7 linked regions of the Homo sapiens genome follow. The protein of the gene in region 7 purifies or fractionates together with the protein of the main gene of each other region. This does not show direct contact. Each region holds a gene or a part of one and is shown on either strand. Other genes may lie near its edges. The genes, in order: ITIH1, CP, COX15, TSC22D1, C6orf58, HPX and SFXN4.

Region 1 (4,255 bases), on a different chromosome or scaffold from region 7:
CTCACCCCGACCGTCCAGACTGTCTCTGACAGAGCTAATACCAGGTTAGCACTGTGAGAATCACCAGCATGGCTGGATGTCACACACTTTCTAAGCCACCGTGTCTGCCTCCCTGGCCAAAGCATGACTGAAAAGTGTGTTGATGCTGAAAGAATTTTGAAACAGTCTGGGCAACAAAGTGAGACCCTGTTTCCCTCCCTTTCTTTTCTTTTTTCTTTTCTTTTCTTTTCTTTTTTCTTTTCTGTTCTTTCTTTCTCTGTCTCTCTTTCTTTTCTTTTCTTTCTTTCTTTTTGGAGACAGTCTCGCTCCGTCACCCAGGCTGGAGTGCAGTGGCACAATCTTGCCTCTCTGCAACCACCACTTTCCAGGCTCAAGCTATTCTCCTGCCTCAGCCTCCTGAGTAGCTGGAACCACAGACGCATGCCACCATACCTGGCTAATTTTTGTATTTTTGGTAGAGATGGGGTTTCACCATGTTGCCCAGGCTGGGCTGGAACTTCTGGCCTCAAGTGATCTGCCTCCCTCAGCCTCCCAAAGTGCTGAGATTACAGGCATGAGCCACCTCGCCCGACTGAAACCCTGTTTCAACAAAAAATAAAAATAATCAGCTGGGTGTGGTGCCACATTCCTGTGGTTCCAGGTACTCAGAAGGCTGAGGTGGGAAGATCAGTTGAGTCTGGGAGGTCGAGGCTGCAGTGAGCCAAGATCGCACCACTGTATTCCACCTGTGCGATAGAGGGAGACCCTGTCTTAAAAAAAAAAAAAAAAAAGAAATTTGAAAGTAAAGCCTGGCCGGGCCCAGTGGCTCACTCCTGTAATCCCAGCACTTTGGGAGGCTGAGGCGGGCAGATCACCTGAGGTCAGGAGTTCGAGACCAGCGTGGCCAATGTGGTGAAGCCGTCTTTACTAAAAATACAAAAATTAGCTGGGCATGGTGGTGTGCACCTGTAATCCCAGCTACTCGGGAGGCTGAGGCAGGAGAATCACTTGAACCCAGGAGGTGGAGGTTGCACTGAGCCAAGATCCTGCCACTGCACTCTAGCACTCAAGACCAAAACTCCATCTCAAAAAAAAAAAAGTAAAGCCTAATGAAGTTTAGAAATCCATTTTTAACTGTTGCTTCTTGCCACATGTCACCGTGTCACTGGTGCTGCCTTGTGCCAGCCCGAGGATGAGATGAGCCATCCGGGGATCCTCACAGTTCACATAGGCTAAGCGCAGTTCTACACAGAGGGACATGGTCTGGAGCCCCATCAGTAGTTTAACCACCCAGAGCTGGGAACCCCCCTGAGGCAAAAAGCTTCCACTGCCAAATTTTGATTCCTCTAAATGTGTTAGGTTGATGCAAAAGTCATTGCGGTTTTTGTCATTAATATTTGCCTGCACCTTGTCTAATGTTTAATCCATGTTTATCCAGCACTGTATTGATTACTGGTCTGACTGAGGTGACAGGGCAGCAGGAGCCTTAGAGCATGGACGGTGCCATGGGGCCTCGGGGGCTGCTGTTGTGCATGTACCTGGTATCTCTCCTCATCCTGCAGGCCATGCCTGCCCTGGGCTCGGCTACAGGCAGGTCCAAGAGCAGCGAGGTATATGGCTAAGCCCACAGGGCAGAAATAGGCAGCTGAACCTGGATGAGGCCCCGGGCGGGACACAAGACCCCCATTCAAGGGGCCAGGGTCACCCCCACCACCTCCACCACTTCTGAGTGGAGAGGTGACCTCCCAGCACCACCAAGGAGGTGAAGCTAAGGGGCAGAGGACACAGGCTGTGTTCCACTCCCATCCCTGAACTGGCAGGCCGGTGGTCCCCTGAGTTTTCCTCTCACACTTGACCCTGATTTTGTTTTGCAGAAGCGACAGGCTGTGGACACCGTGAGTAAGAGTCCTGGCAAAGGGGTCTGTGACAGAGCCCTTTTTACAGGCTTGCTTTCCCCAACCTGTCAGGGGTGGACCCCTCTATCAGGGCCATAGGCATGGGGTACTCTCCAGGGTCCTAGAAATGGGGACTTGTTCCCATCTCACCTCATATCCCACAGCACGGTCTCAGCCAGAGAGCAGGGGTCTTCCTGCGGTCTGTTCTTCCTGCATCTGGGCACCATGCACTGGGGCTAAGTGCCAAGTCCCCGTACCACAGGAAGTCCCTCGCTGACAGAGGCCCTGTCTCAGGCCACAGCTCCTTCATGTCTCACTTTAGGCTGTCGATGGCGTGTTCATCCGGAGTTTGAAAGTCAACTGCAAAGTCACCTCTCGCTTCGCCCACTATGTTGTCACCAGCCAAGTGGTCAACACTGCCAATGAAGCCAGGGAAGTGGCCTTCGACCTGGAAATCCCCAAGACAGCATTCATCAGTGACTTTGCCGTGTGCGTGCCTGCCCAACTCCCATGCCTTCTCCCAGGGGTGCCGCTTACTAGTCCCAGCTTAAGAACAAGGATCGGAGTGGCCAGATAACGCAGAGCATCTCCTCATTCTAGAAGGGCCACAGACCAGCCCTGGCTTTGAGGGGAGGAAGAAGCCCTTTAGGTCTGTGCTTGGCTCCCATCTTGGAGGCAAACTGGGACCCATCACAGCATGTTTCAGGCTAGAACCCAAGGAGCCAAGGCCAGAGTCTGAGGCTTCTTGCTGGCCTCTGACCTGGGCTGCTCACCTCATTGCCCATGGACCCCTGAGTTCCACCATGGGCAGTGGAAGGCTCGTCAGGAGACGTCCTTATCCAAGGGCTCACATGGACAGGCCCTCTCAGGACCTGTGTGGTCAGGAGGCTCATCTTTCCTGAGGGTGTCCTTCCCTCCCTGCAGTACAGCAGATGGAAACGCATTTATCGGAGACATAAAGGACAAGGTGACTGCATGGAAGCAGTACCGGAAAGCAGCTATCTCAGGAGAGAATGCCGGCCTTGTCAGGTGAGTTCTGGGCCTGCTGGTCTCATCTCTAGGGCTGCCCTCCCCAGCCAGGACAGGTCTGATGGCTGCAAGGTGGCTTTAGTGGAGAACAGCCCAGGATGATGGAAGGGTAAGCAAACTGCCCAAACCCAGATGCCAGCACGGTGCACTGAACAGGCTGCCGTGCAGTTGCCCTTTTCCCAGATATGCCACTGGGAGAAGTGGGCCCCCGCCATCTTGGGCCCTGACCCTGACCAGCCAGCTAACACATTTGTGAGGTCCAGGGAAACCTGGGAGCAACACTCATCTAAGAGAAATAAATTCTGTGGGCCACATGTTAGGTGACAAGGACCCAAATGTCATTTACCCTCTGTCTGTCTGCTGTTGCCTCTGGTGGCACATCCAGGGCCTCGGGGAGAACTATGGAGCAATTCACCATCCACCTCACCGTCAATCCCCAGAGCAAGGTCACGTTTCAGCTGACTTATGAGGAAGTGCTGAAGAGAAACCATATGCAGTATGAAATTGTCATCAAAGTCAAGCCCAAGCAGCTGGTGCATCATTTTGAGGTAGATCACAGGTCCCGGGGCAGGGGTCCTGCCCCTCTCTCCGTCACCATGGCTCCCAACACTGGTTGAGCACCCACCATGTGTCACCACCCAGGCCTGAGAACACAGGGATGGGGACTAACCCCTCAGGGTGAGCTCTGATGTGCTCTTCTTGGGCAGGGAACTCCCTGAATTCTCTAACTTCCTCTTTATCTCTGAGCTTCGGTTTGCTCATCTGCTAGACGGGGGGTTTCTGTGAGTCCCAGGACCGCCACAGGGATCACGAGAAGTACTGAATGTCCAGGTAATTTTGTAAACTAGAAAGTCCCGCGCAGCCTGAGGGCCTGGAATTATTGCTGGCACCTAAGTGGTGGCTGAGTTGAGGGATGCAGGCATGTACACCTTCATTTGGTCAGTATTTTTGGAGTGCCTACTGAGTACCAGGCCCTGTGATCAGGGCTGGGTGGGTGCTGCACACAGTAGGTGGCCAGGACACATGCTGGCTCTTGGCTGAGACTTGGTGAGTGGGAGCCCTGGTAGAGAATTTGCTTCAGTGTGGTGTGAGCCTATAATCCCAGCTACGTGGGAGGCTGAGGCAGGAGGACGGCTTGAGCCCAGGAGTTTGAGGCCAGCCTGGGCAACAAAGCAAGATCCCATCTTTTTTTTTAAAAAAATAATTTGCTTCAATGTTGCAGATTGATGTGGACATCTTCGAGCCCCAGGGGATCAGCAAGCTGGATGCCCAGGCCTCTTTCCTGCCGAAGGAACTGGCAGCCCAAACTATCAAGAAGTCCTTCTCAGGAAAAAAGGTACATGGGATAGCAA
Region 2 (3,500 bases), on a different chromosome or scaffold from region 7:
CCATTTCTCTTATTCTATTTGGCCAGAAAGGACTGGGCTCTGGGAAAGAAGCTCCAGCTCTCTCTGACTCTCACTGAGTCCACCTAGAAATTCTCTCACATTCACACTTTCCACGAAAGAGCACAACCAAGAGAAACATGCCATTATTATATGGAAACAAAGTACCTATTAATAAAATAGTTGGCCGGGTGCAGTGACTCACGCCTGTAATCCCAGCACTTTGGGAGGCTGAGGCGGGCAGATCAGGAGGTCAGGAGATCAAGACCATCCTGGCTAACACGGTGAAACCCCGTCTCTACTAAAAATGCAAAAAAAAAATAAAAATAAAAAAGTTTGCCAGGCATGGTAGTGGGCGCCTGTAGTCCCAGCTACTCGGGAGGCTGAGGCAGGAGAATGGCTTGAACCCCGGATGCGGTGCTTGCAGTGATCCGAGGTCGTGCCACTGCACTCCAGCCTGGGTGACAGAAGTCAAAAAAAATTAAAAAAAAATAAAAAAAAAATAGTTAAGAGCTGAATGGCAGTTATATGTCTTATCCAGGAGAGAAGTCCACAATTTTAGAAGCTAAAAGGCACTTCTACTGAAAAGTAAGAGGAAATTCCAGCTACATGAGCTGAACTTACCCTCATGTTCCTTATAGTAAGTTATTCCATGTGAATGAAAGGTGTAGGGCCTAGAGGCAAGGTTTTTTAAGTGTACATAAACTTTATCTCCAGTTTCAGCTTTGATAATAGGGCCTAAAAACCCAAGCCAGACCGGTTTTTCTATAGTTGTCCTAAAGGTTTCATCTGTGTACTGAAGATAAAGGGCCTTCTTATATAGTCTCCCAATTCTATCTGGGCCATTTTGAAGATAGATATTGGAATGTTCCCTGCAAAGAAAAACAAGACAACTCTATCAGAAGCCATCATTTCTAGGGATGACATTATCATTATAATTTAATAACATTATAATTAGAGAAATTAATGAGCACATCACATTGAATGTTTGCCTGTTGTAGGGATGCCTCCAAAATTGAAGTGGAGGGCTGGTAGTTAGCCCTGTTATTTTAATGATGTGAGGCTTTCCATATCAGGTATATGTCAGAGAACCATCTGCGAAGGCATCATAGAAATGTAGTGCATCTTACTGAAGTATTTTCTCCATGATTTTTATATTAAGACACAGGCATATTATGTAATGGAATAGAATACAAAATTAAGTTGAAATATTAAAATAAAGCAGTTAATTAAGACATTTTTTCACTTCTACCTCTCTTAGCTACTGGAAAAATTTGAGTTTATAATTAATCAATCTGGATATTTGAGACTTCAAAGTATGTGTGTGTATATTTATATATTTTTTTCCTTAAAGTAAGATTAATAAAGCTAAATTAATTCTTTTATATTTCTTTTAACAGCACTAAATCAAAGCTAGAGTTGTTGATGCATGCAATGTGTGTGGTTTTTAAATTACTTTTGAATTTAAATAATCCCTGTGTTTTTTAATCCCTCACTAGTACAGATACTTAACATTGAATGTTTGTATTCTAGTGAATGTCCATTAATAGTTGCTTAAAACTTTCTTTAAAATATCAGTGAGGTAAATAGCAATCTGGAAAAGAAAAGATGGAAAGAAAGTAAATTTGGTTTGAATTAATTTCTTGTGTTATCAACCTTAACTGAAGGCTTATATAGCCCAGTGGGATCTATTCATGGGCAACATCATGTTGCCATTTGGCAGGACCCACTTAGATTCTGGCCTTTGGCAAGCCCCTCCACAACCAAGGCTCTTCCATTTGAATAAAAACTGCTCATCATCATGGGTGTGTGTGTGTGTGTGTGTGTGTGTGTGTGTGTGTGTGTGTTGCCTTCTTTCATCTTATTGATCTTTGATACTTTACCAATTTCTACTCAACATTTGTGGGGCCGAGTAATCTGACTGAGGAATAAGTTTTGTCTTGTTTCCTCAGTTGTAAGCTCACTGGTAAAAGTGAGATATATTTTTCTTTCCCTTCTTTAAGACAAGAGCAGAGCTTGTGTGAGAGCTCTGGACTTTCACTGCTACAGAATTTAAAGATGTGGTTTTTCAAAAGTCTAAGGCCTGATGTTTCTTAAGTCTGAATATGCACAGGAATCTACTGATGAACTTAGTGAAATGCAAACTCCTGGGACACAACTCCATTGATTCTGATTCTGTGGGTCTGGGGCAGGGCCCAGGTATCTGCATTATTAACCAACACACTGGTGTGTTTTGATGAGATAGTCTGCTCTGGGGCCCTGGGTAACCTGTGTTGAAGAGGCTCTAAGGTTGAAGATTAAGAGAGCTGCCCAATCCCAGAAGCAGTGGGATTCCTGATACCATGAGACAGAAAGGTAGAAAACTCGGTTTCCAGGTCATACCTGGAAGTGGCAGGACCTCTGCGGTGGAGGCTATATAGATTAAGCCTGAGTGCTGGGGCCAGGTACCATGGCCACTTGGCAATGGTCCTGGTGGCTGAGTTTGGGCAGAGTGAGCAGGTGTTGAAAATAAGAGTCACCATTCTCTGGATTGATCAAGGAATTTCTATGATGAGCGTTTCCTCCTAGTCACTACCATATACCAATACACTGGGAATACCAATTTTCCTGAATTGTATAAACCCGAATTCCCAAAGAAGATAAAATTATTCACTAAAAAAATGACTGAGATGATGTTTCCCTGTCCATCCCCTGTCCTGGTGGGAGGGCTAAGCTAGAAGTTAGAAAAATAAAGTGTCATTATTTGCAGCCTGTGTGGAGCAGCAAAACTGTGAGTATACCCTCATTTTTTCTATTTGTTTTCACTTTCTAATTGTTTGTTGCCATTTCCCAATTTGTTAAAGCAAAATAGGAAAAGATTGGGAGAGACTTCATGGACACAGGTAGGCATGGGAAAAGGGCAAGACACTGGGGTGAACTCTGTCCCTAAACCCATAGCAAGGAATGCACAGAAAGAGTCTTAATAAATATATGTCTTAACAACAGCAAAATTGTTGCATCAAAGACTACTAAGTTTAAAAGCAGAGAGTCATTCAGTCCATATGACTGAGAGGAGGTCAATAAGAGTGCAATTTCAGTTAGGTACACAACTGCAGCTGCAAAGTCTACAGTACAAAGGTACAATTCCACTCTGGTCCCACCGGAACCCTGGACCAATCAATCTCACAGAGACTTGTCTAAGCCCCAGGGTAAATTTTCTTAAGAGTCTGAACACACTTTTATTTCTGAGAGATTGATTTGATAATATTTGGAGACTTTACTCCATGCTTTACCATGTCCTATTGGTACACATCTTACATAGGCCAAAGTTAAAAGTTAGCCCTCAAATTCTTAAGGCTTCATTTAAATAAAATGTTTCTTTATATTTTCTGAATGTAAATACACTTTGGCATACATCATGTCCTATTTTGATAAACTATAGCAGGCTTTGTCAAAATGATTTTATTGCATTGAAATGCTCCTGTATTAATCATTTCCTAAAATAGGAAGAGCATTGCCATAAA
Region 3 (3,500 bases), about 19 Mb from region 7:
TCTGCAACAGGAGTTCTCCAACAGAGAAGATACATCACAATCACCAAGGAAACTTCAAATCTCTGCATCCTTACCTGCTCCCACCCCAAGATTCTGCTTCCTCTAGAGAAGTGGAGTAGAGGCTGTGGTGTGGGGGGAGGGGGAGAGGCTTATTAGCTTAGAAAAATTCCCTTAGTGATTTTGATGCCCTCCTCACCCCGCCACTGAGTGCTACTGATTTATTTTAGAAATGCTCTCCCACAGATGTCTGCATGACTGACTCCCTTATTTCCTCAGCTTCCACTCAGATGTCACCTTACCAAAGAGATTTCGCTTGATGATCCTAGCCCACTTTCTGTCTCCTGACCCTAATTTATTTTTCTTCATGGCACTAAATATCATCTAGCACATTATGTTTCTATTGTGCGTTATCTGTCTTCCCCAAATGCTCAATAAATGTTTGTTGACTGAATACGGAAGTGAGAAAAATCCCAAAACTTATAAACTAAATCCTGGATAAACAAATAAAGAGGGTATTCATGAATTAATGGATGTCTGATCCATTATTTATTATCAAAGAAAATCCAGAAATGTTTGGGTCACACTCGCTTTTTTCTTTCTTTTTTTTTTTGAGACGCAGTCTGGCTCTGTCCCCCAGGCTGGAGTGCAGTGGCATGATCTCGGCTCACTGCAACCTCTGCCTCCAGGGTTCATGCAATTCTTCTGCCTCAGCCTCCCGAGTAGCTGGGACTATAGGTGCGCCCTTTGGTAGAGACGAGGTTTCACCACGTTGACCAGGCTGGTCTCGAACTCCCAACCTCAGGTGATCCGCCTGCCTCGGCCTCCCAAAGTGCTGGGATTACAGGCATAAGCCACCATGCCTGGCCTTTTTTTCTTTTTTTGAGTCAGGGTCTTGCTCTGTCACCCAGGCTGGAGTGCAGCAGCGCAATCTCCGCTCACTGCAGCCTCGACCTCCTGGGCTCAAGCAATCCTCCCGCCTCAGCCCCCTGAGTAGCTGAGACTACAGGTGAATACCACCACACATGGCTAATTTTTGTATTTTTTGTAGAGACGAGGTTTCACCATGTTGCCCAGGCTGGTCTTGAACTCCCTGGCTCAAGCAATCTACCTGCCTCAGCATCCCAAAGTGCTGGAATTACAGGTGTGAGCCACCATGCCCAACCCACTCCATATTTTTTTTAAATGTCCCTTATGAAGTAAAAATTCATGCTCTTATGCCAAAAATAAAAGTGTTGAGTGGCTCATTGGTTTGAATCAATATTATTTTTAGTCCAGAGCAGTACTATCAATAGAACTTTCTGTGAGAGTGGAAGTATTCTATATTTGTGCCAACCAATATACTAGCCCCTAGCCACATGTGCCTGTGGAGCATCTGAAATGTTGCTAGTGTGACTGAAGAACTAAATTTTAAATTTTATTTAACCTTAATTAATTTAAGTTTAAATATCCACATGAGGCTACAGGCTCCTCTACTGGATAGTGCAGTTCTAGAATGAGAGCAGCAGTGGTGGAAGTGTGGGTTAAAGAATGAAAACGGCCAGGCATGGTAGCTCATGCCTGTAATCCCAGCACTTTGGGAGGCTAAGGCGGGTGGATCACCTGAGGTCAGAAGTTCGAGGCCAGCCTGGCCAACATGGTGAAACCCCATCTCTACTAAAAATACAAAAATCAGCTGGGCGTGGTGGTGTGCACCTGTAGTCTTAGCTACTCGGGAGGCTGAGGCACGAGAATCGCTTGGATTTAGGGAGGCAGAGGTTGCAGTGAGCTGAGATCATGCCACTGCACTCCAGCCTGGGCAACAGAGTGAGACTCAGTCTCAAAAAAAAGAATGAAAAAATCCTGTGTTGGTCTCTCTGTGCCAATGAACTCTCCACCTGCAACCATCTCTGAGGGCAAGCCTTTTCTCTGACCCATGTTGATGTAATGTGATGATAACAATGTTTATATATAGTAACAGCTAACACTTATGTAGCCTTTGCTACATGCCAACAACGATGCTACACATTTCACATTTAGCAGTCATACTGTTGTCGTAATCTCCATTTTATAGATAAGGTCTCTAAGGCCCAGAGAGGTTACAGAGCTTGCAAAGGTCATATAGTTCACAGGTAGTGAAGCCAGGATTTGAACCTAGGCCATCTGGATCTAGGTAGATGTTCAATATTTTTGTTCAATTGACAGTAAAGTAGAATTTTTGGAAGAGAGAAAGGAACAGGAAACAGGGTGAAGATGGGGGAATGAGAGAAACAGATGTGAAAAGGAAATATAAAGATGCAGGAGGAAGGGGCAAAGCATTAGGCAAGAGGTCCCAGCTTAGAGTGCAATGCAAACAGGTCATCTTTGATGAGCTGAGTCCTACCTGAGAGGGCCGTAAGGAACACCAGACCTGCTGTTCCATGAGCAAATCGTCTCAACTGTAGGAGTTGGTGGGTTTCAGGCAACTAAATATGAAAAAAAATCATTCAGTTAAACTGTGTTGCAGGAACAATGAGAGGCAGCAAAGATCTCTAAGGCCAAACCCAAGTGACAAATTAAGATCAGATCTTCTCTGACCCCTAGACTAGGTTAAGTACTCCTGGCAGATATTCTGTTCCAACATGTACTGTATTTTATTATAATTATAGATTACTATCTGTTTTCCCTTCTACCCCATAAGTTTTGTGAAGGCAGGAACTGCCATCTTTTTTACTAGAGCAATCTTAGCCTAGTGATTGGCACATAGGTACTCATTACGCATCTGTTCAAAAACTGAATGATTTCCATTATTCAGGAAACAATGCTTCATCACGGTTGAAAGGATGTAGCTTAAGATCAGGACTGGATTTTCATGTGTGTGATATTAGTGTTTAGCAAATATAGTCAGAATCAAAATTGCATAAAGTGCTTAGAGATTCCTCCATTTAGTGTTTTTGATAAAATCAAAATTTGTTTTTATTCTTATTACCAACTTCTAATACTAATAAGTGAATCATCAAATATGAATAAGAACTTTATAAACAGGTGACTATGCCACCCTCAAATGGCTTACACTCTACTATATGAAAAGTTAGGTATCATTACTAACATATTATAGGACAGTATATCAGCACTGTCCAATAGAACTTTCTGTGATGGAAAAGTTCTATCATCTACCTAAGGAGAGCTTGAAACATGTGGCTAGTATGACTGAAAATTAAATAAAAAATTAATTTTATTTAAATATAAAGTTTAAATAAACAAAAAGCTTATGTAAATAAATTTTATTTAATTAAAAAAATTTTTTTTCTCACTTTGTCGCCCAGACTGGAGTGCAGTGGCACAATCTTGGCTCACTGCAACCTCCACCTCCCAGGCTCAAGCGATTCTCCTGCCTCAGCCTCCCAAGTAGCTGGGATTACAGGTGCGCGCCACTATTGCCCAGCTAATTTTTTAACTTTTAGTAGAGATGGGGGTTTCACTATGTTGGCCAGGCTGGTCTCAAACTCCTGACCTCAAATGATCCACCCGCCTCAGCCTCCCAA
Region 4 (3,500 bases), on a different chromosome or scaffold from region 7:
CGCAGCCGGGCTCCACTCAGCTCTAGACCAGGACTCCCAGTCTTAGTGCAAAATATATGCAGGAAAGAGCTGCGCCGATTGGCCGGCACGCCACTGGGACCGCCCCCTACTCCCTTCCAGGTCCTCCCGCTTCCCTGCTTCCCCGCCTCCCCCCACCCCCACCTCCGCCCCCATTCTCCAGATCCCGCTCGTGGGGTGGGCTGGCCTGGCGCGGGCCGTGCTCAGAGGGAGTGGGGTGCTGGGTTCGGAGGTTTCCACGGCGGCCTCAAAACACTGGGCCATTGCTTCGGCAGAAAATGTGAAGGGTCCCTGAAAAATACTATGGGGGCCCCCACACGTGCTTACGTTTAAGGGAGTCAGACCCCGGTCCCCGGAGCTGTGTCCCGCGGCTGCTTAACGGCGAAAGCTTCCTATTTGTAACCCGAACCGTCTGAGCTACTGGGCATGCCCAGTCCCACCACTGTAAGACTTCGAGTGTCTTGATTTCAATTATCTAGTTCTTACCGGCAGCGGTACTGGGAGGATTTTATAGACGGTTTTATTTTTAAAGATAATAATCACCCTGCAATCATGTATTTTTTTAATTTTAGAGGAAAAAAAATCACATTTGCTCTTTGAGAGATACTACCTTTTGTTTTATAGAAACAAAACAAAAAACATTATATATTCTTTGCTAGGCATGAGGGAAAGACTCCAGATAAAATCCAGGATCTTCCCAAAAAGCCCGTAGAGCCACAAACCTTAAAATCACATCTCCCTATTAGCATCTTCTCCCTAGTAACTAAATATGCCTTCTTCTATTTAGACCCAAAAAAGTCAATCCACAGGTTGAATTCCACATAAATCTATTTTTAGTTAAGTCCCTAAGGCACGTTTTTGCAAGCTGAGTGACAATTCCTCTAAGACTCAATCCCTCAATCCTATGAGCCTTCTTACATCAGAGGGATTGAAATATTATAAAGTATGTATTCAAAGCATACAAATCCTTGAAGTTAGTCTCTGCCCATTTGCAGTGTCCAGAACCAGAAAAGGGAGGATATAATGGTGGTTAAAAATAGTTAAGCAGCCAATAGATGCTGTAGGCTCACCTCTGTTTCACCCTCTTGGCCACACTGACCAAATAATTCCCTTCTCCAAACCAAAATCGAGAGATGTGGGTATAAAATAGCTTAACCCTTTCAAAATTTCCTATATTAATTTAAAATACTTGCAGGGATGCATCAATTAAGGCTACAATTTAATATACTAGAAATCTAAGCCCTGAAGTTTGCTAAATTATAATACAACATAAACAGTTTCCAAGTCAATACATGCGAGAAAGAAAACTTAACCTCTACAATACTGCCCTCTAATGGCATAATATAAAAACCAAAAAATCTACAAAGTACTTGGGGAGACCTCTCTAATCTGTAGATAAAATTGTGTCATCACAAATAATTCCAACATAAAATCTGACCGTAGAACATATATATGTAATACACGCACATGCACAAACACACACAGTCTTCTCTCCAAAATAAGCATCTTTCCTCAAGCAGCATCCTTTTCTAAAATTGCCATCAGATCCATTTAGACAGTTTTTAAGTTGACTCAATGCTGGTAGTGGGGGTAGGTAGATTTGGTTTTCAGAAACTGTCCAAAGTTATTAGGAACCAGACCAGATCGGTAAGCACAGTAAATGATGAAGACCACAATTCTCTTTTGGGTTAAAAACCAAAGTGTGACCAACTATAAAGTGATGAGATTCCCTTTTTACTGAAAGGTTCATATTCTCCAAATTTTAAGGCTTGGCTTTTGAATAACAATAATTGTTAACATATTTATAATTTATAAAAATTACATATATTAACTCATATGATGCTTTAAAAAAAAAGATACCCATTTCCAACAAAAGGAGACTAAGTAGAAGCTTAGAAATCGTAATTATTTGGGAAGCTGGCATGTGGTCCCTATGTCTATGAATGCTAACCAGAATATTATTTACTACATGATAGTCTCTATATTTTGAAAGTTAAAGTTATACCTAAAACTATTTGTATGCTAAATTCCATTTACATGTTTTAACTGAATGCCAACTTCATGAAAAAAGGGTATTAAAGCACCATTTAAGCTATAAAAAGAGCTTTAAAAAACAAAACTCTAAGGTCATATAAAAAAATTTTTAAATTCCAAGCTGCAGTTTTAAAAAATTACTAAATTAACTGAATTTATTCATGCCGTTCTTCAACATAAACAGAAAGCTGTTTTTATTTCAATCATTTTAACTGATCATCCATTGTATCAAGCAAGAGAAGCAAATATAAGCAACCATAGTCTATTTAACCCATTTTCCTATTGAAGGACATTACAGTTATTGTTAATACTTGGATATTTTAAATAAAATTGCAAGGAACATCCTTCTACATACATCCTTGAACATGTATGTGTGTGTGCACACTTCTGGAGAATTTGTTGAGCCAAAGGATAGGCAACTAAAAAAATGATTAGAAATCTAATTTTCTCATATATTTCACATAAATATGCTAGATTCCTTTAAAACTAGACTTTTGTATGAAAACTGAGAAGACATAATTTGAAAAAGAAGGCAAAGGAAATGGAAAGCTCCATGGAGGGAAAACCCTTGGATCAGAAATGTCCGTGGCACAAATGGCTAGAATTACATTCAAAGGCTCTTCTAATTGCAAGACAAACGATCCATATGTCTGGTGCCTCATCAGAGCTCACTGAGACTTGCTGACAGGGCAGAGAAAAATACTACAAGGCTTCCAGGAGAGATCCTTAAAGCCATGGACCATATAAGTCTATTTCAGGCACTGAGCAAAGATCAGGAGGTATCACCTCAGTGGGAACTCATACACATTAAACAGCCTGGACAATTGAGATTGAGGTATTTTCTAGTGTTGTCTGCCTAAAAGCCTTTTTACACAGATTCCAATTCAACTGCTACTGCATATTGGTAGCAAGCATGACAGGATAGGAAAAGAGGAACAGGCCTGAGTGTTTCTGTTTCCTGTAACATGTGCTTTTCTTCCAAACTTAATCTGACTTGGCCAACACCGGTACAGTTGGAGATTCAGCACTGAAATAGAGTAACCTCTTTCTCCCCCTATCCAAACTCCTTGCAAATCTAAAACAACTGCCAGGAAAGAAGCGAAGGCACATTACCCTGTACCTGACCAAATCACTGCTGTCTAAGGACTCCCACGTCACCTCCATTTTTCTAGTTTACTCTCACTAGGCATGGGAATATACTTACCAGGTTTAACAAATGAAACTACAGGACTATCAGTTAAATGTGAATGGCAGAAAAACAACAAATAGTGTTTTAGTGTTGGGTCCCACACACTGTCAAAACAAGAAGAAATGCCAAAGAAATGGCTGTTAAATTCAACCACAATTTACATTTCCTTATCTCCACAGAAAGGCTGGTTGGAAAAAGCTTCCAAAAGAGTAGAACAGTGGCCGGGCGCGAGCGCGATGGCTCATGCCTGTAATCCCAG
Region 5 (3,500 bases), on a different chromosome or scaffold from region 7:
ACTCCATCAGAAGGTACCACACCAAGCTCTTTTTTGCAGCACAACTTCAGGGATTTGAGTCTTGGATCCACATTTCTCAACTCAAGAGAGCCCCTCCAGACCCCTGGGACTGTACACCCATCGGAGATCTCCAGGTAAAGCTTACTAGGAACGTTTTTTTTCCCCAGAAGAAGATGGCATCCTTGATGTAGACAGCTTTCCCAAGATCATGAATAAAGTCTTTTCTCCTCTGTCAACATGAAGTCTTTTCTCCTTTTCCTTTTTGGCCCATGTTTCTTTTCTGTCTACACATGGCAATATAATGTGATAATGAAGATTTCATACTCAATTACTTCTGCATGGAACTTAACTGAGTATTGCATATGTCATGTTAAACCTAAATCCTCACATGATCTTAGAGATACTCTGGTTCACCCTGTAAGAAATTTCACTGATATTCCATGTGCAATATCTAGTTCTTTCTAAACAGCTAGACTTTTAGATTCAAATATTCAGATTGCCTGTTTAAATCTAACAGTAGGCAAAACCTATAATGAGAGTATGGTAATTAAATTAAGCCAGAATTGAATTTGAAAAACAAAAGGAAGATAATTCGACGTTTGTAGGCAAATTTATAACCCTAATCCTTTAGTTGCTAGTATCTTCTAACCATACAATGATTAAAAAATGAGGCCTTAGACAAATATTACTAATGCTGACTCATAATGCTGACTCATAACGCACAAGGCATCTCACACAGGAGACTATCTGTAGGGTTCTTCCAGAATATATTTTTATTTGTGGAGGATTTAACAACCAACCATATATGTGGGCAAATCCATGTCTCAATAATTACAAAATAAGGAGCCACCGACAATTAAGGGATTCCAAGAGTACTCCTGTCACTCCATAACTAATTGGAAACTGGATATTGGTCTGCAACTCTTAATTTGAACTATGGAATAAAGAGGAATTTACCAGCAGGTATGAATTCTTCTTAATGGGTATTGTTGGGTAAAAAATTCCTTCCCTGGCTTTGTATAAATGTAAAGGAGGTTATGCTTAGAAATACGTCTCATACATTAGTTACTACAGCTGACTCTACTGCAAAGGCTACAATTGGCCAGCAAACTTCTTTAGATTTTCTTGCTAAAGGCATATTAGGTAACCGGATTGCTTTGGACTACCTTTAGGGAGGAATATGTGCGCTAGCTAACACTCCCTCCTGTACTTAAGTAAATTCATCAGGTAGGGTAGAAGCTCAGTTGTAAGAAATCAACAAACAAGCCAATTGGTTAAAACAAGTAGATTTTTCTTCTGGCTTATTATTTATATATTTGATTTATGTTGGTTCAATTCATTGAGGTTCCTTCTGTCTCTTAGTATCAGCCTCCTGACAGCCATCATAATAGTTTCCCTGGTGCACCTTAACCTCCCCAGAGTCTTAAATCCTCTTATGCAGCTATTCATTCTATGTCAAATGGTCTCATTAAAATTAGAATAATGAAAACATAAAGAGAACATAAATAATCAGTCAACTGTCCTGATTTGTGAACTGTGAATTCCATACTGATACCAAATAAGTCAATGATGAAAGTGACAGAGAGTGATGTCAATGCCCAAGGTTTTGGTCAACCTCTCAAAATTGAGAGGCAGACCAAAAGGTGGGGAATTGTTAAATTAAGTTTGGCCTAAAATTGCCACGATATGTAGCAAACTGCAACTTAATGTAGTTTGTAAACAAACTGCAACCAAACTTAAGAGTATTTTCTTGTAACAAATATGGGTCTCAGCCAATCATGGCAGCTGAGCTTCAGCCAATCACAGGCTGCCAACTGATCAAACCATGCCTATACAAGGCAAATTTCTCACCACACTATGTCCAAATGAGGCAAATCTGAGCTGTAACCAATCAAGGTGTTTCCATATGTCACTTTCTTTTTCTGTCTATAAATACTGCCTGCCCACATCACTGGGTGAAGCTCTCTGAACCTCTACTGGTTCAGGATGATGCTGATTAATGAATCATTCATTGCTTAAGTGAATTCTGCTACATTTATCTTATCTATAGTTTTTCTTGTAACAGTGTCTATGATTAAATAATAAAGGTCATCTACATATTTATATTATATTTTGTTTTCTACATTTAGGAAAATGTATTGTCTGTTGCTTTTTTTTTTGTTTTTTCATGCAAGGCTTTTTTTTCTCAAAATTTTCCCCTTCTTCATAAAACACTTTTTTAAGCCTGATCATGTTAAAATATTTACACATCCTCACTATAATCTCCAATGGTTAGGCTTATTATTTAATATAAAGATTGAAAAACACTCTAGAAGAAGAAGAAAAATATATAAATAATGCCCAAAATTATTTATCATATTAAATAGAGATACTTTAAAGATTCATTCTTACCTGTCTTCAAAACTTTTGATATTATCTGCCAAGGTTGAAGTGTGTGCAGCCCATAAGTACTTCAACAGATCATCAAACTTACTAAAAGGTGACTGCAAATACTAAGGTAAAGAGGTCAAATTTATTAATATTTGAGCAACTATAAAATCCTTCTCCCTGAAATTTAGTCATGTTCAGATATATTTTAGCAATATTGTACATAAAAGAAGAATTTTATTTCTAAGAAAAAGTATGTATATGGCCTTAATGCCTAACACTCTTTAAATAACACAAAAATATTCATTAGTTTTAATAATAGCATATGCATCTATAAGTATTGAACTTCAAGTATTTTCAGAGTTTATATTTTATACCGATCAGGCCTTTATTTTTTCCTGTTAACACTGTTAAAATTACCATAAAATCGTGAGTAACAAAAATATCTTCTTAAAATGTTTCATTAGATCTAAACTAATGCAATAATCTACTAAAGTACTAGTAAATATATCTTTTCTTCATTGATTTTAGTCAAATTTCTTCCAATATCCTAGTGGACATGAAGACTCAATTAATCAGAATAGCTTATTAATCATTCAGCAAAATATCCTGTATGCTCACCATTTTTGTATAATGTATTTGAGGCAAGAAGAATGGATAGATTTATGTTAATGCTGTATTGAGGCAGTAGGTGTTAATGACTCATAACACTCTACAATATACTATTAATATATCATGCATAGCAATTTACATCTGCATACTAAGGAAAATATTATGTAATGCACAAAAAAATCCTAGACGAAATTATATGACAAAATAAACTCTCTTCCTATCTCGTAAGAGTATAAAGAAGGAACCTGGTAAAAGGTGTTCCACTTGTTCATTGTCTCAGGGAAGGATGAACGACAGCTAGAAACATCATAACAAAACTTCCTCTCATTCTTGGGTGGGGGCAAAAGCCTGACTTGGTCTGATGATATCCCCATTACACCAGAATCAACCGCAGCAAGAAAGGGTAATGAAGACAGAAAATAATTCAAATCTGTAAGAACAAAAGATTTACTATTACTACAAGCACTAACAAATTTCAAAGAGGATATTTTTAAGGAAGGCATAAGTCATAAAAAAATTCA
Region 6 (3,500 bases), on a different chromosome or scaffold from region 7:
GGAGAAGTGCTAACTTTTCAACTCAAAGAAAGAAGATTGTTTCACGACCAAGGTCCCTTGATTCAAGTGAAGAAGCAATCTGTCTTTATTATGAGAAACTGGGGAGGTGGGGCCAGGCCAGACTCATGTCAGAAGGCCCCTCAGTGAGAAGCGAAGAAGCAATCTGTCTTTATTATGAGGAACTAGGAGGTGGGGCCAGGCCAGACTCATGTCAGAAGGCCCCTCAGTGAGTGCAGCCCAGGAGACTGGTCACATTCTGGGGTTGCGGAAGGGCCTTGGCTGCATTCAGTTTCTCCACATCACTGTAGCAGTACAAATTGGGACCATGGATGAGGTACAAGCCGGGACCATTGGCGGAACATGAGTTAGGGCCAAGGGACTTTTCCATACACAAGGCTCCGTCTACCTTCTCATGGGGCCAAGGAAGCTCTGTCCACGTGGCTTGGGCTCCTGACTTCAGGTCCAGCCACCACAGCCGCCGTCCTGGGGAGAAGGCACCAAACATAGCATGGCTTCCATGTCATGGGGATCCTGACCTAGGCCTTCTCATGCCCTGGGGATCCTGACCTAGGCCTTCTCATGCCCTGGTGGGGATCTATGCCACAGACAGGTAGCAGAACAAGCTGCCCTCTAAGCACCCAGAAGCCCCTCACCTGCCATGATATGGAGCCGAGAAGACCCAGGGCAGATAAAGGCCGCATCCACAGAGTCCAGGATAATCCCATGAGGGGTCCCGACTTCCTTCTCCAGCCGCTTCGGATAACCGCTTACTAGGGTATAGCCTCCCTTTGTCAGGAAGACATATACCTGGGTGCCCTGGAGGACAAAGGATGGTAATAAATACAGAGTTGGATATGCTTGTCCCAGTCTCTACCTCAAGCCTCTCCCCCAATACACACCTGGACCAGATAGAGTTTTTCTTCCCAGGAAAAGGCAGCATCCACTGCTGAAGGACCCTGGGGCCACTGATGAGCAATGGGCCAGCTATGCCAGCCATCCCGGCTGGTGTCCAGACGCCAGTAGTGGGTCCCTGTGGAATACCATAGGTTGCTCTAGGGCCGCTGGCAGAAGCCCAGGCAGAGAAGAGGCTAGTGATGAATGCAGAAATGAGTCATGAGAGGGAGAGAATGCATCCAGAGGCCAAGATGGAAGAGGCCAGGTGAGAAGGAGAAATAGAGCAAGACTTGGTCAGCAATGTTGGGCACTGTGCCCTGGCTGAAACTGGAATCAGCAGGTGCCTGAAAGAAAGGCAAGTGTGGAAAACAGTGGCTAAGTTTCCAGGTAAGGCCAACATCATGGGGTTGGCGGGCACTCCCTAAGGATTTCAGGTGTCCATGTACAGAGATGCGGTTATAGATAATGAAATACAGTGTCCAGAACTTAAAAAGGAAGCACCACTTCTACTGAATGTTCTCACTCTGGCTGTGTTCTCCAGTCTCTCCCTATGAGGTGGTGGAAGAGTGAGGGAGTAGCTGGGCTAGCACCCCGTTTTTCTTCTCCTCTTTTCACAACAACTTATTAAGGAATTATCTAGGCTCCCATTTGTCTTTTTTCCTCAATCCTCTTCAATTACACTTCTGTTTCCCTCAACCATTGAAATTGTTCTTATCCAGGTTGCTAGTATTCTCCAATTTGCGAAATCTCATGGTCAATTCTCTGTTCTCATCTGACCCTACCTCTCAGGAGCACTGGACTGCTCACTACTTCCTTCTCCTTTAAATGTCTTTTTTTGGAACTTGGCTTCTGTGACACCTGACTCTCCCAGTATTCCTCTTATCTTTTTTGACTACTCTTTTCTTCAACCTGATATCTAAATATTGGAATCCCCTACTTTGGGCCTCTTCTCTTCTCTCTCTACCTTCACTTCCTTGGTAATCTCACCTAGTCCAGGGGCTTTAAATGCCATCTATATGCTGATGACTTCCAATCTGTTCTCGTCAGCTCTGACTGACCTCTCCTTTGAGGTTTAGGCTCCAAATCAGCTGCCTACCTGACATGCTTATGGGGTGCCAATAGGCACCCAAAACCTAATATGCCCAAACTGATTTCTGCCCCCCACCAACACACACACTCCCTAGTCTTTCCCAATTTTAGAAAACAAAACCACCAGCCACTCAGTTGCTGAGTCCACGAAAGCTGAGTCATTCTTGAAGCCTCTTTTCCCTTCCCTACTCTGACTGATATCATTCATTCATTCATTTATTTAGAGACGGAGTTTCACTCTTGTTCCCCAGGCTGGAGTGCAATGGTGCAATCTCGGCTCACTGCAACATTCACCTCCCAGGTTCAAGCGATTCTCCTGCCTCAGCCTCCCAAGTAGGCTGAGATTACAGGCATGTGCCACCATTCCCAGCTAATTTTGTATTTTTAGTAGAGACGAGGTTTCACCATGTTGGTCAAGCTGGTCTCGAACTCCTGACCTCAGGTGATCCACTCGCCTTGGCCTCCCAAAGTGCTAGGATTACAGGCGTAAGCCACCACACCCGGCCTATCTTAGCTATTAGTTAATGCTGTCAGCTCTACCTCCAAAATATATCATGGTGATTCCTCACCACCTCTGCTGCTATCATCCTAGTCCAAGCGGTCATCACCTCTAATTTGGACAACTGCACGGATTGCTAGCTGGATTCCTTGCTTACATGCTTGTACTTTTATAACTTATGTTCTGCAAAAAGTCAGAGTGATCTTTTATAAAAAATGAGTTAGAATATATCACAGCCCTGCTCAAGACTTTCTGATGACTCCCTTTTATGGTTGAAAACCCTTACCAGGTCTAGGTAACCTGGCCACTGCCGTCCCTGCCCTTTCAAGTCACCCACCTGCTCTTTCTCTGTGTTCCAGCCTCACCAGGCTTCCTTCTTGATTCCTTGAAGTATGTGCTGCTCACCCTCCCTAAAATGCTTTTCCTCCAGCACATCGTGTGGTTAATTCCTTCTCATCACTGAAGTCTCAGCTCAAAAATCATTTCTTCAGAAGACAGCCCTCATTCTCCTCACCTCTATCCCACTATCCTGTCTTATTTTCTTTACAACCCTTAATATTACCTAAAATTATTCTCTTTCTTCCTTTCTCTTTCTTATTGTCCTCTCTCACTTTAGCAGAGCCTGTCAGGGCAGGCATCTTGTCTGCCATGTTGACTACTGTATCTCAGTGCCTAGGACAATGCCCACTTCTTATCAGATGCTCAACAAATATTTGTTGAGTAAATACCTAGTGTTCTTGCTGCTACCACAAGTTCTCTTATTAGCCGTGTACTGAGTATACAGCGGTGACTGACATATCCACCTCCCCTGGGAGGTTTCCCACTGAAATTACCCTGCTCAGGAACCATATTTATTTTATTTTATTTATTTGTTTTTTGAGACAGGGTCTCAATCTGTCACCCAGGCTGGATTGCAGAGGCACAGTCACGGTTCACTGCAATCTCTGCCTCCCACACTCGAGCAATCCTCCCACCTCAGCCTCCTGAACAGCTGGGACTACTGGTGCATGCCACCACA
Region 7 (4,067 bases):
GAATCACTCTGGCTCCTTTGTTAAGACGACATAGCAGTCCAAAGTGGGGAAGCAGGCCAGCGGGCTGGCTTTGTGACATCCTGGAGGGTAGAGACAACAGAATAGAACAGCACGCTACATACTGCACTGGTGCTTAGATGGATTTCTGCGGCATAAGGGTAGAAGTGGAGGGGGCACCTTACTCAACTCGGAGGGTCAGGGAAGGCTTCCTGGAAGAGGAGATAAACCCCTGGAGGTTAAGAAAAGTGAGCTAGGCAAACTGAGCAAATACAGAAGCAGAGTCATACAGGCCTGAAGGACGCCATGAGCCAATTTCCTGTTCCTGGAGGCGCAGGGCAAGGGAAGGAATTGGCCCGCTGGAGGTTAATGGCCAATACTGAGCACTTCTGAGGGCTCAGTGCTGTGTTAGGGATGTTTTATCTCCTTTGATCAGAAACAAAACCCTGAGATAGGTACAATTGTTATCCTCATTTTGCGGATGGGAAAATAGACTTCGAGATACTGACTTGGCGAGGGTCACACAACTAGATGATGTGCTGGGTCCCCCAGTCCTGGACTCCGGAGGCCCCCTGAACGACCTAGGCACACTTGTGGCTTCCGTGAATTTAAGTGCACACAGCCCCCGCCTGGCCCTGTGCTGGGGAAGGGCAGGTGGGAGGAGGAAGGGAAGGCAGGTTTTTCTTTACAAATGGTACCTATTTGGTAGTCAACAAAAGGAACTGGATTTGCCCCAACACTGGAAGAAAAAAAAAAACAACCTGTTGGGCTGAGGGATAGTGCACTGTGCCCAGGGCCCTATACTTGGTTTGATGCTCTGGTGTTACTCTCTTGAAATTCTCAGTAACATGAATAAGGGGCACCGCATTTGACATTTTCCCTGGGCTGAGACCATGATGCAGCCGGCCTGACTGCGCAACACCATGCACACTGGAATTCGTGGGCCATCGGAGGGATTTTCGAGGGTAATGACCAGGGGTAGGGCGCGGCAGAAGCGCAGGGTGAGGTTGCGGACGGCCTCACTCACAACCTTTCCGGGTCTTCGCATTAGGTACTGTGATGACGGGTTCCGATAGTGACCCCTTGGGGCCTGGAGACGGCCCGGCTCCCCAAAGGTGCGGAGCAGGGCAAGCAGGGTTGGGAGGACGTGGCCCGTGGGAGAGCTGCGCTCGCCGGAACAGTGGGCGCGCAAGGGCCCCGAGGCGCTGTGACACGGGACGTCGGGCGCGCGGGCCTGGGGCGGGAACTGCGGGTGCGCGCGGCCCGGGGCGGGGCTCGCCGCCCGGCTCCTCCTCCACGCGCGGCCTGGCGGCGGCGGCCACTCTAACCAGCGCAAAATGTCCCTGGAACAGGAGGAGGAAACGCAACCTGGGCGGCTCCTAGGACGCAGAGACGCCGTCCCCGCCTTCATTGAGCCCAACGTGCGCTTCTGGATCACCGAGCGCCAAGTACGGCCCGGGCCCGGCGCGACTAGGGGCAGGGAGGGGGCGGGCCGGGCCGCGTGGAGTCGGGCTGACCCGGGTGACCTTGGCCAGGCCACGTGGGCGCCCCCTGTCTCCGTTTCCTCCTCTCGGAGTTGTGCCGGGAACGCGCACCACCGGCCTTCACCCCTTAGGGCGCGGCAGGGGACGCAGGGGAAATCGAAGCTGCCAGATGCCCACGACCACAACGTCACCCTCCAGATTGCCCTCTCGGAGGGGCCCAGTCCGCGCAGGTGGCTGCTCCCTACTGCCTGAGCTGTGGCTGAGCAGCAGATTGGGGAGAAACAGGCTCTCGCACCTTGGTAAGCTCAGCCACTTTCGGTGAGACCCCCGAGGCTTTGGGAAGCCACCCTTGGGCAGGACATAAGCAGGACTTATCTCCCTGCAGCGTCTAGGGCAGCACCGTCCAATAGAAATATGATGTGAGCCTTACAGGTAATTAAACATTTTCTAGTAGCCACATTAAACAAGATAAAAACAGCTGAAATTTTTAACAATACAGTACATTTAGCCTAGCAGGTGCAAAATATTAACATTTCAACATGTAATCAGTAAAAAACATTGCTGAGATATTTTACTCGCTTTTTTGGTACAGAGTGTTCCAAATCCGGCGTCTGTTACCTTCACAGCACATCTGGGTTCAGCCGCATGTGGCGAATTGGAGAGCAGGGCTTTAGGGGGTTCTCTTTGAGGCCTCTCCTAAAGTGGGGTCCAGCCCTGTTTTTTTTTTAGGTGGGGAAATTGAGAAGGGGCGGTGAGCTCAGGTTGCTCCAGCAGAGCCAAGGCTTAAAGCCAGAACCACTACAAAGTTTAGAGTTTGCTGGAGCAAACCTCTTTTTCCCCAGTGTGACCCCAGCTGCACCATTGAGCCCTTAATGGGGCGTCCATCCTTTGTCACTGGAGTGAAGCCTTATAGCAAGCAGAGAGTGAGGCCACAGACTCTTGAGATATTCTAGGCCATTGCTTCGAGGTCGTATGTGAGATATGAACGTAAGACCATTTGAACCCCCAAAGTCTGGGATTTTAACCCTCAAGGGCAATTTGATACTGAGAGGTTAAGGGCACAGACTTCTGAATCATTTCCTGGCTGTGTTGCCTTGAGTACATTCAGGAGTCCCTCTAAGCCTCAGCTTCCTCACCTGGAGAACCTGGAGAGGTTGGGAGGATCCCAGGAGATGATGCCAGTAAAAGGCAGATCACAGACCCTGGCAGGTTCTCAGAAAAAAAAAAAAAAAGCCAACTGTTAGTATTTATATCTTTATTTTTCTGCTGCCATTAACCTCTCTGTTGCTTTTCTCCCTCCTAAGTCCTTTATTCGACGATTTCTTCAATGGACAGAATTATTAGATCCTACAAATGTGTTCATTTCAGTTGTAAGTATTGTTTTCAGAGCTAATGAATTTCACATTTTATTTTGAAACTTGAAGTCTGTGTGTCCCTTTTTTTTTTTTTTTTTTTTTTTTGAGACGGAGTTTCGTTCTTCTTGCCCAGGATGGAGTGCAGTGGCACCATCTCGGCTCACAAGAACCTCTACCTCCCAGGTTCAAGCGATTCTCCTGCCTCAGCCTTCCGAGTAGCTGGGATTGCAGGCATGCGCCACCATGCCCGGCTAATTTTGTATTTTTAGTAGAGACGGGGGTTTCTCCATGTTGGTCAGGCTGGTCTTGAACTCCCGACCTCAGGCCCTGCCCACGTGTCCCTTTTAAAAGCAGTTGAAATAACAGAATCTACATATATTATTGTGTTTATTCCTTCTAAATGAGCTTGTCAGATTGGAAGGGGTAAGGAAAAGCGTACATCTGACCGTGTGCCGTGGCTCATGCCTTTAATCCCAGCACTTTGGGAGGCCGAGGTGGGTGGATCACCTGAGGTCAGGAATTCGAGACCAGCCTGACCAACATGGTGAAACCGACGTCTCTACTAAAAATACAAACATTAGCTGGGTGTGGTGGCAGACACCTGTAATCCCAGCTATTCGGAAGGCTTGAGGTGGGCGAATCACTTTCTGAACCCAGGAGGTGGAGGTTGCAGTGAGCCGAGATCTTGCCACTGCACTCCAGCCTGCGTGACGAGCGAAACTCCATCCCCTTCCCCCAGCAAAAAAAGAAAAGAAAAGCGTACATCTGTTTAACAGGTAATATCAGGCCCAGGCCAGGTGCTGGGGATTCAGAGAGAATCAAACAAATCTTCCACGTGATGGAGGACAGACTGGCTAAACTGGTCACATCCTGGGTGACAAGAGTGAAACTCCATCTTTAAAAAAAAAAAAAGAAGAAAGAAAATGTAATAAAATTAGAAGCAAATATAACCAGATGTTTACAGTTGTTAATTCTGGGTGAGGGGATTATAGTGTGTAGCCATTCTTTGTAATTTTTGTATTTATTTTTTCTCAAATTAAGAAATGGAGGCTGGCTGTGGTGGCTCATGTCTATAATCCCAGCACTTTGAGAATCTGAGATGGGAGGATCTCTCGAGAATAAGAATTTGAGACCAGCCTGGGCAATGTAGCGAGACCCTATCTGTACAAATAAAAATAGAAAGTTAGCCAGGTGTAGTGGGTTGTGCCTGTAGTCGCAACTATTTGGGAGG

Evidence for each region.
Region 1: the proteins of SFXN4 (region 7) and ITIH1 purify together in Homo sapiens (affinity purification with mass spectrometry; one large-scale study listed by BioGRID and IntAct). This does not show direct contact.
Region 2: the proteins of SFXN4 (region 7) and CP purify together in Homo sapiens (affinity purification with mass spectrometry; one large-scale study listed by BioGRID and IntAct). This does not show direct contact.
Region 3: the proteins of SFXN4 (region 7) and COX15 fractionate together in Homo sapiens (co-fractionation; one large-scale study listed by IntAct). This does not show direct contact.
Region 4: the proteins of SFXN4 (region 7) and TSC22D1 purify together in Homo sapiens (co-immunoprecipitation; one large-scale study listed by IntAct). This does not show direct contact.
Region 5: the proteins of SFXN4 (region 7) and C6orf58 purify together in Homo sapiens (affinity purification with mass spectrometry; one large-scale study listed by BioGRID and IntAct). This does not show direct contact.
Region 6: the proteins of SFXN4 (region 7) and HPX purify together in Homo sapiens (affinity purification with mass spectrometry; one large-scale study listed by BioGRID and IntAct). This does not show direct contact.

What each region holds. Positions count from the first base shown.
Region 1 is NC_000003.12:52,776,144-52,780,398, forward strand, and holds the start of ITIH1 (inter-alpha-trypsin inhibitor heavy chain H1 isoform a preproprotein), read left to right. Parts: upstream 1-1,455; 5' UTR 1,456-1,472; coding exon 1,473-1,589; intron 1,590-1,853; coding exon 1,854-1,874; intron 1,875-2,196; coding exon 2,197-2,363; exon of another isoform or gene 2,364-2,523; intron 2,524-2,798; coding exon 2,799-2,903; intron 2,904-3,288; coding exon 3,289-3,451; intron 3,452-3,777; exon of another isoform or gene 3,778-3,950; intron 3,951-4,125; coding exon 4,126-4,239; intron 4,240-4,255. UniProt on the Homo sapiens protein: May act as a carrier of hyaluronan in serum or as a binding protein between hyaluronan and other matrix protein, including those on cell surfaces in tissues to regulate the localization, synthesis and degradation of hyaluronan which are essential to cells undergoing biological processes.
Region 2 is NC_000003.12:149,211,830-149,215,329, forward strand, and holds part of CP (ceruloplasmin precursor), read right to left. Parts: intron 870-3,500; coding exon 622-869; intron 1-621. UniProt on the Homo sapiens protein: Multifunctional blue, copper-binding (6-7 atoms per molecule) glycoprotein. It has ferroxidase activity oxidizing Fe(2+) to Fe(3+) without releasing radical oxygen species. It is involved in iron transport across the cell membrane.
Region 3 is NC_000010.11:99,718,628-99,722,127, forward strand, and holds part of COX15 (heme A synthase COX15), read right to left. Parts: intron 2,442-3,500; coding exon 2,360-2,441; intron 1-2,359. UniProt on the Homo sapiens protein: Catalyzes the second reaction in the biosynthesis of heme A, a prosthetic group of mitochondrial cytochrome c oxidase (CcO). Heme A is synthesized from heme B by two sequential enzymatic reactions catalyzed by heme O synthase (HOS) and heme A synthase (HAS).
Region 4 is NC_000013.11:44,436,831-44,440,330, forward strand, and holds part of TSC22D1 (TSC22 domain family protein 1), read right to left. Parts: intron 463-3,500; exon of another isoform or gene 346-462; intron 29-345; exon of another isoform or gene 1-28. UniProt on the Homo sapiens protein: Transcriptional repressor. Acts on the C-type natriuretic peptide (CNP) promoter. Acts to promote CASP3-mediated apoptosis.
Region 5 is NC_000006.12:127,580,174-127,583,673, reverse strand, and holds part of C6orf58 (protein LEG1 homolog precursor), read right to left. Parts: intron 3,410-3,500; coding exon 3,225-3,409; intron 2,493-3,224; coding exon 2,392-2,492; intron 1-2,391. UniProt on the Homo sapiens protein: May be involved in early liver development.
Region 6 is NC_000011.10:6,430,988-6,434,487, forward strand, and holds the end of HPX (hemopexin precursor), read right to left. Parts: intron 1,031-3,500; coding exon 900-1,030; intron 817-899; coding exon 654-816; intron 484-653; coding exon 224-483; 3' UTR 62-223; downstream 1-61. UniProt on the Homo sapiens protein: Binds heme and transports it to the liver for breakdown and iron recovery, after which the free hemopexin returns to the circulation.
Region 7 is NC_000010.11:119,162,915-119,166,981, reverse strand, and holds the start of SFXN4 (sideroflexin-4), read left to right. Parts: upstream 1-1,267; 5' UTR 1,268-1,334; coding exon 1,335-1,445; intron 1,446-1,724; exon of another isoform or gene 1,725-1,913; intron 1,914-2,785; coding exon 2,786-2,851; intron 2,852-4,067. UniProt on the Homo sapiens protein: Mitochondrial amino-acid transporter. Does not act as a serine transporter: not able to mediate transport of serine into mitochondria.